Homo sapiens: one gene and its partner. The protein of the gene in region 1 binds, or shares a complex with, the protein of each later gene. Each region holds a gene or a part of one and is shown on either strand. Other genes may lie near its edges. A codon is read from its position in the direction of its gene.

The links.
Region 2: the proteins of CDK6 (region 1) and CDKN2A are in contact, whole or in part, in a crystal structure (PDB 1BI7), measured with the Homo sapiens proteins. Residues at the interface, in NP_001138778.1 of Homo sapiens: Glu14, Cys15, Val16, Ala17, Glu18, Ile19, Phe28, Lys29, Arg31, Leu33, Asn35, Gly36, Gly37, Arg38, Phe39, Arg44, His100, Asp102, Gln103, Asp104, Thr106, Thr107, Asp110, Lys111, Gln149, Thr154, Ser155, Leu166, Ala167, Arg168; in NP_000068.1 of Homo sapiens: Thr18 (codon at 2,984), Ala21 (codon at 2,975), Arg22 (codon at 2,972), Gly23 (codon at 2,969), Arg24 (codon at 2,966), Glu27 (codon at 2,957), Asn42 (codon at 2,912), Tyr44 (codon at 2,906), Arg46 (codon at 2,900), Gln50 (codon at 2,888), Val51, Met52, Met53, Met54, Gly55, Ser56, Arg58, Asp74, Ala76, Thr77, Thr79, Asp84, Arg87, Glu88, Gly89, Phe90, Asp92, Asp108, Trp110, His123.

The regions. Positions count from the first base shown.
Region 1 is NC_000007.14:92,604,228-92,609,574, reverse strand, and holds the end of CDK6 (cyclin-dependent kinase 6), read left to right. Parts: 3' UTR 1-4,654; downstream 4,655-5,347. UniProt on the Homo sapiens protein: Serine/threonine-protein kinase involved in the control of the cell cycle and differentiation; promotes G1/S transition. Phosphorylates pRB/RB1 and NPM1.
Region 2 is NC_000009.12:21,971,793-21,978,988, forward strand, and holds the start of CDKN2A (cyclin-dependent kinase inhibitor 2A), read right to left. Parts: upstream 3,066-7,196; 5' UTR 3,036-3,065; coding exon 2,886-3,035; coding exon of another isoform or gene 2,685-2,885; exon of another isoform or gene 2,612-2,684; intron 1-2,611. UniProt on the Homo sapiens protein: Acts as a negative regulator of the proliferation of normal cells by interacting strongly with CDK4 and CDK6. This inhibits their ability to interact with cyclins D and to phosphorylate the retinoblastoma protein.

The DNA of each region.
Region 1 (5,347 bases):
CATCAGTAATTCAGTAGACAAAACTTTTGTCTGAAAAATTGCTGTATTGAAACAGAGCCCTAAAATACCAAAAGACCAGGTAATTTTAACATTTGTGGAATCACAAATGTAAATTCATAAGAAGCTCTAATTAAAAAAAAAAAGTCTGAAGTATATGAGCATAACAACTTAGGAGTGTGTCTACATACTTAACTTTTGAAGTTTTTTGGCAACTTTATATACTTTTTTTAAATTTACAAGTCTACTTAAAGACTTCTTATACCCCAAATGATTAAGTTAATTTTAGAGGTCACCTTTCTCACAGCAGTGTCACTTGAAATTTAGTAGGGAAGGATATTGCAGTATTTTTCAGTTTCCTTAGCACAGCACCACAGAAAGCAGCTTATTCCTTTTGAGTGGCAGACACTCGACGGTGCCTGCCCAACTTTCCTCCTGAGTGGCAAGCAGATGAGTCTCAGTAATTCATACTGAACCAAAATGCCACATACACTAGGGGCAGTCAGAAACTGGCTGAGAAATCCCCCGCCTCATTCGCCCCTCTGCTCCCAGGAACTAGAGTCCAGTTAAAGCCCCTATGCGAAAGGCCGAATTCCACCCCAGGGTTTGTTATAACAGTGGCCAGTCTGAACCCCATTTGCTCGTGCTCAAAACTTGATTCCCACTTGAAAGCCTTCCGGGCGCGCTGCCTCGTTGCCCCGCCCCTTTGGCAGGAGAGAGGCAGTGGGCGAGGCCGGGCTGGGGCCCCGCCTCCCACTCACCTGCCGGTGCCTGAAATTATGTGCGGCCCCGCGGGCTGCTTTCCGAGGTCAGAGTGCCCTGCTGCTGTCTCAGAGGCATCTGTTCTGCAAATCTTAGGAAGAAAAATGTCCCTAGTAGCAAACGGGTGTCTTCTGTGCATAAATAAGTACAACACAATTCTCCGAAAGTTCGGGTAAAAAGAGATGCGGTAGCAGCTGCCCTGTGTGAAGCTGTCTACCCCGCATCTCTCAGGCGCTAAGCTCAGTTTTTGTTTTTGTTTTTGTTTTTTTAAAGAAAAGATGTATAATTGCAGGAATTTTTTTTTATTTTTTTATTTTCCATCATTCTATATATGTGATGGTGAAAGATATGCCTGGAAAAGTTTTGTTTTGAAAAGTTTATTTTCTGCTTCGTCTTCAGTTGGCAAAAGCTCTCAATTCTTTAGCTTCCAGTTTCTTTTCTCTCTTTTTCTTTGTTAGGTAATTAAAGGTATGTAAACAAATTATCTCATGTAGCAGGGGATTTTCATGTTGAGAGGAATCTTCCGTGTGAGTTGTTTGGTCACACAAATAACCCTTTCTCAATTTTAGGAGTTTGGATTGTCAAATGTAGGTTTTTCTCAAAGGGGGCATATAACTACATATTGACTGCCAAGAACTATGACTGTAGCACTAATCAGCACACATAGAGCCACACAATTATTTAATTTCTAACTCTCTGTGGTCCCTAGAAAAATTCCGTTGATGTGCTTAGGTTAAAGTTCTGAAGATACCCGTTGTACCCTTACTTGAAAGTTTCTAATCTTAAGTTTTATGAAATGCAATAATATGTATCAGCTAGCAATATTTCTGTGATCACCAACAACTCTCAGTTTGATCTTAAAGTCTGAATAATAAAACAAATCCCAGCAGTAATACATTTCTTAAACCTCACAGTGCATGATATATCTTTTCATTCTGATCCTGTGTTTGCAAAAATATACACATGTATATCATAGTTCCTCACTTTTTATTCATTTGTTTTCCTATTACCTGTAGTAAATATATTAGTTAGTACATGGAATTTATAGCATCAGCTACCCCCAGGAACAGCACCTGACAGGCGGGGGATTTTTTTTCAAGTTGTTCTACATTTGCATAAATTATTTCTATTATTATTCATGTATGTTATTTATTTCTGAATCACACTAGTCCTGTGAAAGTACAACTGAAGGCAGAAAGTGTTAGGATTTTGCATCTAATGTTCATTATCATGGTATTGATGGACCTAAGAAAATAAAAATTAGACTAAGCCCCCAAATAAGCTGCATGCATTTGTAACATGATTAGTAGATTTGAATATATAGATGTAGTATTTTGGGTATCTAGGTGTTTTATCATTATGTAAAGGAATTAAAGTAAAGGACTTTGTAGTTGTTTTTATTAAATATGCATATAGTAGAGTGCAAAAATATAGCAAAAATAAAAACTAAAGGTAGAAAAGCATTTTAGATATGCCTTAATTTAGAAACTGTGCCAGGTGGCCCTCGGAATAGATGCCAGGCAGAGACCAGTGCCTGGGTGGTGCCTCCTCTTGTCTGCCCTCATGAAGAAGCTTCCCTCACGTGATGTAGTGCCCTCGTAGGTGTCATGTGGAGTAGTGGGAACAGGCAGTACTGTTGAGAGGAGAGCAGTGTGAGAGTTTTTCTGTAGAAGCAGAACTGTCAGCTTGTGCCTTGAGGCTTCCAGAACGTGTCAGATGGAGAAGTCCAAGTTTCCATGCTTCAGGCAACTTAGCTGTGTACAGAAGCAATCCAGTGTGGTAATAAAAAGCAAGGATTGCCTGTATAATTTATTATAAAATAAAAGGGATTTTAACAACCAACAATTCCCAACACCTCAAAAGCTTGTTGCATTTTTTGGTATTTGAGGTTTTTATCTGAAGGTTAAAGGGCAAGTGTTTGGTATAGAAGAGCAGTATGTGTTAAGAAAAGAAAAATATTGGTTCACGTAGAGTGCAAATTAGAACTAGAAAGTTTTATACGATTATCATTTTGAGATGTGTTAAAGTAGGTTTTCACTGTAAAATGTATTAGTGTTTCTGCATTGCCATAGGGCCTGGTTAAAACTTTCTCTTAGGTTTCAGGAAGACTGTCACATACAGTAAGCTTTTTTCCTTCTGACTTATAATAGAAAATGTTTTGAAAGTAAAAAAAAAAAATCTAATTTGGAAATTTGACTTGTTAGTTTCTGTGTTTGAAATCATGGTTCTAGAAATGTAGAAATTGTGTATATCAGATACTCATCTAGGCTGTGTGAACCAGCCCAAGATGACCAACATCCCCACACCTCTACATCTCTGTCCCCTGTATCTCTTCCTTTCTACCACTAAAGTGTTCCCTGCTACCATCCTGGCTTGTCCACATGGTGCTCTCCATCTTCCTCCACATCATGGACCACAGGTGTGCCTGTCTAGGCCTGGCCACCACTCCCAACTTGACCTAGCCACATTCATCTAGAGATGGTTCCTGATGCTGGGCACAGACTGTGCTCATGGCACCCATTAGAAATGCCTCTAGCATCTTTGTATGCATCTTGATTTTTAAACCAAGTCATTGTACAGAGCATTCAGTTTTGGCTGTGGTACCAAGAGAAAAACTAATCAAGAATATAAACCACATTCCAGGCTGCTGTTTTCTCTCCATCTACAGGCCACACTTTTACTGTATTTCTTCATACTTGAAATTCATTCTGCTATTTTCATATCAGGGTACAGACTTATAAGGGTGCATGTTCCTTAAAGGTGCATAATTATTCTTATTCCGTTTGCTTATATTGCTACAGAATGCTCTGTTTTGGTGCTTTGAGTTCTGCAGACCCAAGAAGCAGTGTGGAAATTCACTGCCTGGGACACAGTCTTATAAGAATGTTGGCAGGTGACTTTGTATCAGATGTTGCTTCTCTTTTCTCTGTACACAGATTGAGAGTTACCACAGTGGCCTGTCGGGTCCACCCTGTGGGTGCAGCACAGCTCTCTGAAAGCAAGAACCTTCCTACCTATTCTAACGTTTTTGCCCTCTAAGAAAAATGGCCTCAGGTATGGTATAGACATAGCAAGAGGGGAAGGGCTGTCTCACTCTAGCAACCATCCCTCCATTACACACAGAAAGCCCTCTTGAAGCAAAAGAAGAAGAAAGAAAGAAAGCTTATCTCTAAGGCTACTGTCTTCAGAATGCTCTGAGCTGAATGCTCTTGCTCCTTTCCCAAGAGGCAGATGAAAATATAGCCAGTTTATCTATACCCTTCCTATCTGAGGAGGAGAATAGAAAAGTAGGGTAAATATGTAACGTAAAATATGTCATTCAAGGACCACCAAAACTTTAAGTACCCTATCATTAAAAATCTGGTTTTAAAAGTAGCTCAAGTAAGGGATGCTTTGTGACCCAGGGTTTCTGAAGTCAGATAGCCATTCTTACCTGCCCCTTACTCTGACTTATTGGGAAAGGGAGAACTGCAGTGGTGTTTCTGTTGCAGTGGCAAAGGTAACATGTCAGAAAATTCAGAGGGTTGCATACCAATAATCCTTTGGAAACTGGATGTCTTACTGGGTGCTAGAATGAAAATGTAGGTATTTATTGTCAGATGATGAAGTTCATTGTTTTTTTCAAAATTGGTGTTGAAATATCACTGTCCAATGTGTTCACTTATGTGAAAGCTAAATTGAATGAGGCAAAAAGAGCAAATAGTTTGTATATTTGTAATACCTTTTGTATTTCTTACAATAAAAATATTGGTAGCAAATAAAAATAATAAAAACAATAACTTTAAACTGCTTTCTGGAGATGAATTACTCTCCTGGCTATTTTCTTTTTTACTTTAATGTAAAATGAGTATAACTGTAGTGAGTAAAATTCATTAAATTCCAAGTTTTAGCAGAATGTGTTTTTTTTCTTTCTTTTTTTTTTTTTTTTTTTTTTTTTGGTGCTTCTTATTTGCAACCTGGCCATGTGGTAGAAAGAATGTGTTTTAAAGTTTTACTTTAAGAGATTCCTTTTCAGGCTTCTAGTGTTTAAAAAGTAAATAACAGCTAAGTGAGCTTAGAACTCATTCAACAATTGGCCGGGCACGGTGGCTCATGCCTTTAATCCCAGTACTTTGGGAGGCCGAGGCAGGCAGATCACCAGAGGTCAGGAGTTCAAGACCAGGCTGGCCAACGTGGTGAAACCCTGTGTCTACTAAAAATACATGAAAACTAGCCGGGCATGGTGGCACGCGCCTGTAATCCCAGCTACTCAGGAGACTGAGGCAGGAGAATCACTTGAACCTGGGAAGTGGAGGTTGCAGTGACCTAAGATGGCGCCACTGCACTCCTGCCTAAGCAACAGAGCAAGACTCCATCTCAAAAAAAAAAAAGAACTCATTCAACAATCATGCGTTGCTTAATGACTGAGATACAGTCTGAGAGATGCATTGTTAGGGGATTTCATCGTTGTGAGAACATCATAGAGTGTACTTACACAAATACACACCTAGACTAGATGGTGTAGCCTAAGCCTCCTAGGCTACAAACCTGTATAGTATTGAATACCGTAGGCAATTGTAACACATTGTTAAGTATTTGTGTATCTAAA
Region 2 (7,196 bases), on another chromosome or scaffold:
ATGAAGTTATGATCTTTGAACACAATGGGGAATTATTAAGTCAAGCTAAGTAACCTATCCATCATCTCAAATATTTGACATTTTTGTCAAATGAGAGCATTTGGGATTTACTATTTAGCTATATTCATCATGCTATGAAACACATCTCAAAAAAAACAATCAAACTTATTCCTCCCATCTTAACTGAGGCTTTATATCTTGATTACCATCTCCCCATTCCTCCCACCCCCCAGCTCTAGTAACCACCATTCTACTCTTTACTGCTAAGAATGTAATTGTTTTATATTTCACAGATAAGTGAGAACATGTGATATTTGTCTTTCTGTGTTTGGCTTATTTCATTTAGCATAATGCTCTCCAATTCCAAAACTTCAATTTCTTCAAGTATAAAATAAGAAGGCTAGTTTAATTAACCCTAAAATTCCTTCCTGTGGTAGGCTGAATAATGCCCCCCCACCCCCAATGTCTATGTCCTAATCCTCAAAAACTTTTAATACATTAACTTATGTGGCAAAAGAGGCTTTGCAGATGTGATTTAATTAATGGTCTTGAGGGAGATTATCCAGAATTTTCAGGGTGGGCCCAACATAACCCCAAGTGTTTTTATTAGAGGGTCACAGTCAGAGAGAAGATACAAGAATGGAAGCACAGGCCACAGAGAAAATACAGAGACCATGAGCCAAGGAATTTGATGGTCACTAGAAGCTGGAAAAGACAAGGAAACAGATTGCCCCTTAGAGTTTCCAAAAGGAATGAAACCTTGTGGACCCATTTTTGACTTCTGATCTCTAGAACTGTAAAATAATAATTTTGTGTTTGTTTTAGCTAACACATTTGTGATAATTTGTAACAGCAGCAGTAGGAAACTAAAACACTTCCCAGGTTTATGATTTGAGAGTTCATTAAACAAGAGATGGTCACCTCTTTGGTTCCTAAATCATCTTGGAAACAAAGCCATTTCCAGAGAGGAATTTTAAAATACTGTCTGCAGTCATAGCAACCTTAAAATTTGAGTGCTGCATGGTGGAAGTAGACAATTTATTTTAGGATAACTGTTATTTGTTATATTAGTTTGAGGATGGTGGTGTTAAAGAGGAGTTACTTATTTTTAGGTACATTTCATACTAAACACAAATTGCATAATTTGCCTAAATCAAGGAATTATACTAAATTATATTATGGTTATTAAATCCTGTCCTGAGAAAGTGAAACTGACTCAGTTTTCAAAGAGACAAAGAGAAAGTATAAGCAAACCAAATTGCAGCTACAAAAAGAAAGACAAAATGTTGCAGTATATTTATTGTTTTGTGTATTCAATGAAGTCCTTCGTCTTGGTCATAAAACTAGCCTTAAAGGTTTTTCTTATATTTCATAGTATGAAAAATCTAAAAAGTAACCCATATGTAAATATTTAAATCATGATAGAAATCCAAAGCAAAAAGAAAATGAATCAATTGAATTAAAATGTGTAGGATGCTTAAACCCATTTGATAATATATCCATTTGATAATATACTAATATGAATTTAGTACTTTAAAATGTTATATAAATAAATGTTCCTATATTAAACACCAATGTAGTTAGGATTCTAAGCCAACATCATTTCCCCTTTTCTACATGTTCTTCTCCCGTCTCCATTAAAAATTGTCAAAACTATCCACTTTTCTTTTTCCTTTTTGTTTTTAAACAAATAAGGTCTCTTCTAAGATATTGTAGGACTACAAAGCCAAACTCCCGGGTTCAAGCTGTTGGCAAAATTTTAGAGATGCTAAGTTACCCATGTATTAATTACTTTTAAATCCTCCCCTAACTCCCTCACAAAACAGGAGTAGGGAGAGGAGAAACACCTCTGTTCAAAAATGAGGAATTGAAAACTCTTATCACAAATAAACTATATCAAGTAAGCTAAAGATAGTAAAAGAGCAAAAATGTTAGCAGATATTCCCAAAATGGTAACTACATATTACCTCTGGAATGATCACATGAATGTGGCTCATTATTTCCTAAGTTCCTACAGCAAACATATATTTATTTGCCCTACTCAGTTAAAAATAAACACAATATGTAGTTGCTTCTGAATAATTTTTCTCTCTCTCTTTCTCTCTTTCTTTCTTTCGACAAAGTCTCACTCTGTCACCCAGGCTGGAGTGAAGTGGCTCCATCTCGCTGTTCACTACAACCTCAGCCTCCCGGGTTCAAGCGATTCTCCTGCCTCAACCTCCCGAGTAGCTGGGATTACAGGCGCCTGCCACCACCCCCGGCTACTTTTTGTATTTTTAGTAGAGGCGAGGTTTCACCTGTTGGCCAGGCTGGTCTCGAACTCCCGACCTCAGGTGATTCCCCCCGCCTTGATCTCCCAAAGTGAAGGGATTACAAGGCGTGAGGCACCGCGCCCGGCCGCTTCTGAATAATTTCGATCAAAATTTATATTCGATATTTATTCCAACATACACCACAGATTTCCACTGATAATCCCTCCTAGTAAGAAAGATAAGCTCCATCCAGGTATCTGTGAATTGGAGGCTAAGTAGTCCCAGCACATCTTACATTTCTTTAAGACTCCCTTTTTATCCCAAACGTTCGTAAATTTTGTATCTGATAAAGAGCATACTTCCATCTAATACAAATATGTTCCCCCCTTCAGATCTTCTCAGCATTCGAGAGATCTGTACGCGCGTGGCTCCTCATTCCTCTTCCTTGGCTTCCCAAGCCCCCAGGGCGTCGCCAGGAGGAGGTCTGTGATTACAAACCCCTTCTGAAAACTCCCCAGGAAGCCTCCCCTTTTTCCGGAGAATCGAAGCGCTACCTGATTCCAATTCCCCTGCAAACTTCGTCCTCCAGAGTCGCCCGCCATCCCCTGCTCCCGCTGCAGACCCTCTACCCACCTGGATCGGCCTCCGACCGTAACTATTCGGTGCGTTGGGCAGCGCCCCCGCCTCCAGCAGCGCCCGCACCTCCTCTACCCGACCCCGGGCCGCGGCCGTGGCCAGCCAGTCAGCCGAAGGCTCCATGCTGCTCCCCGCCGCCGGCTCCATGCTGCTCCCCGCCGCCCGCTGCCTGCTCTCCCCCTCTCCGCAGCCGCCGAGCGCACGCGGTCCGCCCCACCCTCTGGTGACCAGCCAGCCCCTCCTCTTTCTTCCTCCGGTGCTGGCGGAAGAGCCCCCTCCGACCCTGTCCCTCAAATCCTCTGGAGGGACCGCGGTATCTTTCCAGGCAAGGGGACGCCGTGAGCGAGTGCTCGGAGGAGGTGCTATTAACTCCGAGCACTTAGCGAATGTGGCACCCCTGAAGTCGCCCCAGGTTGGGTCTCCCCCGGGGGCACCAGCCGGAAGCAGCCCTCGCCAGAGCCAGCGTTGGCAAGGAAGGAGGACTGGGCTCCTCCCCACCTGCCCCCCACACCGCCCTCCGGCCTCCCTGCTCCCAGCCGCGCTCCCCCGCCTGCCAGCAAAGGCGTGTTTGAGTGCGTTCACTCTGTTAAAAAGAAATCCGCCCCCGCCCCGTTTCCTTCCTCCGCGATACAACCTTCCTAACTGCCAAATTGAATCGGGGTGTTTGGTGTCATAGGGAAAGTATGGCTTCTTCTTTTAATCATAAGAAAAAGCAAAACTATTCTTTCCTAGTTGTGAGAGCCCCACCGAGAATCGAAATCACCTGTACGACTAGAAAGTGTCCCCCTACCCCCTCAACCCTTGATTTTCAGGAGCGCGGGGTTCACTAAGTCAGAAACCCTAGTTCAAAGGATTCCTTTTGGAGAGTCGGACTGCTCTCTCCTTCCCCTCCCCTTCCCCTCCTGCGTGTAAAACGGCTGTCTGGGGCAAGGGTTTCTCAGACGTGTACATTGCCTGGTATAAGAGCAGACTCTGAAAAGATGAGGTTTATTTAATACGGACGGGGGAGAATTCTGCCTGTAGGCAGATAGGAAAATGGGGAGGGAGTCATTGGAAGGACGGACTCCATTCTCAAAGTCATAATTCCTAGACCAGAAAAAGTGCTCAGTGTTCTAGAAGCAGAGTTGCACAGTGATCCAAAGACCAGCTTCAAATACTGTCCTGTCTCCTTCACACTTCTCACATTTCTCTTTCCTACTGAAAATACCTTGCATTTTTCGTAATTATAAAGGGGGAAGGGAATATGAGTGCCCCCTGCTTTATAGGGGTTGTTGTGAGTTTAAATGATGTATTAATACATATAAGCCTTAAGAACAGTGCCACACATCCTAAGCTAATACCTGTTAGCTCTTGAATTATCCGCTTTGAGGACTGGCTTGCAATCTTGTTTTGAGGCATAGAAAGAAAATGCTTTGGAGCAGGACGCGGTGGCTCACACCTGTAATCCCAGCACTTTGGGAAGCCGAGGCGGGCAGATCACCTGAGGTCAGGAGTTCGAGGCCAGCTTGGCCAAAATGGTGACACCCCGTCTCTACTAAAAATACAAAAATTAGCTGGCCATGGTGGCGCACGTGTGTAATTCCAGCTACTCAGGAGGCTGAGGCAGGAGAATCGCTTGAACCCGGGAGGCAGAGGTTGCAGTAAGCCGAGATCGCGCCACCACCCTCCAGCCTGGGTGACAGAATGAGACTCCGACTCAAAAAAAAAAAAAAAAATGCTTTGGATAGAATTATCACTATTACATAAAAGGAAAGTCCGGATGCGGTGGCTCACGTCTATAATCCCAGCATTCTGGGAGGCCGAGACAGGCGGATCACCTGAGGCCAGGAGTTCGAGACAAGCCTGACCAACATGGCGAAACCCTGTCTCTACTAAAAAATACAAAATTAGCGGGGCTTGGTGGCGCATGCCTGTAATCCCAGCTACTCGGAGGCTGATGTAGGAGAATCGCTTGAACCCAGGAGAAGGCGGAGGTTGCAGTGAGCCGAGATCGCGCCATTGCACTCCAGCCTGGGAGACAAGAGCGAAACTTGGTCTCAAGAAAAAAAGAAAGAAAGAAAGAAAGAAAGACCAAGAAGAACTTACTCCCTGAAAAGATTATGGGCACCCTCCACCACCCTCACTTACAAAGAAAAGTTAAACAGCACTAAAGAGTATAACAAGCGCAAGGAGGTAAAAGTTCTAATTTTTCCTGTGACTACTACTTTTTAAGCTTATCAAAAACATGTACTACGTTTTAAAAAATGGATTGCTCAGACTTTGCTGATGCCTTAAGCACATGCTTAATCTGCCTACTGGATAATCCAGCTCTGTTTAAAAGTTATATTTCAATCCCTGGTTGACTTAAACCTTGTAGACCCAGTATATCTTGTACTTTTAGTGTCTGCTTGATTTTAAAACATGTAGTTTTTAAAATGAAGCCAATGAAAACAATTTGGGATGTCAAGTATGTTATTAAAATCTACAATGCATTACTGTACCATTTATATTTTCCTCGGGGTACCTCTCAATTAGCTGTGTAGCAATGATAGGGAAAATTCAAACTATCGATAAATAAAATTATTTTAGTTTAGTTTAAGATATTTTATGATGGAGGAGGAAGAAAGTGGTTGCCAGGATGGGAGGGAGGGAACACATTTCCATCACTAATACAATGGTTCTTTCTTTTTGTTTGTTTGTTTTGTGTGTTTTTTTGAGATGGAGTTTCGCTCTGTTGCCCAGGCTGGAGTGAAATGGCACCGCACGATCTCTCTCGGTTCACTGCAACCTCCGCCTCCCGGGTTCGAGCAATTCTCCTGCCTCAGCCTCCCGAGTAGCTGGGATTACAGGCACATGCTGCCATACCCAGCTAATTTTTGTATTATTAGTAGAGACGGGGTTTCACTATGTTGGCTAGGCTTGTCTCGAACTCCTGACCTCAGGTGATCCACCCACCTTAGCCTCCCAAAGTGCTGGGATTACAGGCATGAGCCATCGTGCCCGGCCTACAGTGGTTCTTAATGGGGGTGGGAGAGTGGGAAGAGTAGGCTCCTTCAAGAGTCTGTTGAAATAAATACCTTCTTCTCAAAAAAGAAAGTAGGTAATGATTTTTTTTAAAAAAGATGTGTTCACTTGCACATGTATTTCTAGATAAAACTTTCAGTGAATTCAGGGATTTCTCTGAAACTCTACCATGGATTCCTACATCAAGAACTCTTTCAGCTCTTGTGAAAAATATATATAGCTATTGGTGAAGAAGATGGGAGATGCAACCATATAAAAACAACATTTGGATGCATTATAAACAGGTGTAAAAGTTGACTGCTTTGGAAATACCAAGAACAAGTTTTAGATATGTATATCTCATATCTTGCAGTAGAGCTCTGGAAGGATTATGGCATCCTTGGGTGGGGCCATTTTGCTCTAGAAATTGAAGTCCATTATCCATTATAAATCTTATGTAGGGGGGAGGGGGGAGGGATAGCATTAGGAGATATACCTAATGCTAAATGATGAGTTGATGGGTGCAGCACACCAACATGGCACATGTATACATATGTAACAAACCTGCACATTGTGCACATGTACTCTAAAACTTAAAGTATAAATAATAATAAAATTAAAAAAATATTATGTAAATAATTAATAATAGTGGGAAAACTTTCCTAGTTTTTCTGTTAAAGAGCCCATTATACTCCCAGTTTACTCATACATATCGACCTGAGGTGCAAAATCCTAGAAGAATGAAAATATAAAGTCCTGGATCTCTGTGCTCCTTATGCCAGTCTCAGATTTCCTATGTGCAAAATGGGATTATAATATATTTCATGTGGCCATAAAATATGATAATGTATGTCCAAAAGCTTTTAATGTAAAAATTTACTACATTTACTAAATTTACTAAAGTTTGTTGGTTATTGTTATTATTATTCTCACACTTACTTTTCCTCTTTCCTGAGAATGCCATTCTTTTTTTAGATTTGCACTGCCTTTGCAGTTTTGAAAATTCTACACGTGAAATTTAAACCTGTCTTAATTCTGATCAGTCTTATAACAAAAAAAGACTACCACCTGTTCATTCATTCAACAAGCTCAGAAACTAAGGGCAGACATGGGGTGGGGGCAGAGGGGAGTAGGTCAAACATAGTATCTCTACAGTCAGACTGCCAGGGTTCAAACCTCAACTGTTCCACTTATTGGTTCTTTAACTTTTATCAAAGTTACTCAACATGTCTGGGCCTCTGTTTTCTCATTTGCATGATTAGGATAATAACTGTACTTGCCTCAAACAGTTGTTTAGGGATTAAATGAAGCATGTAACGCTCTTAG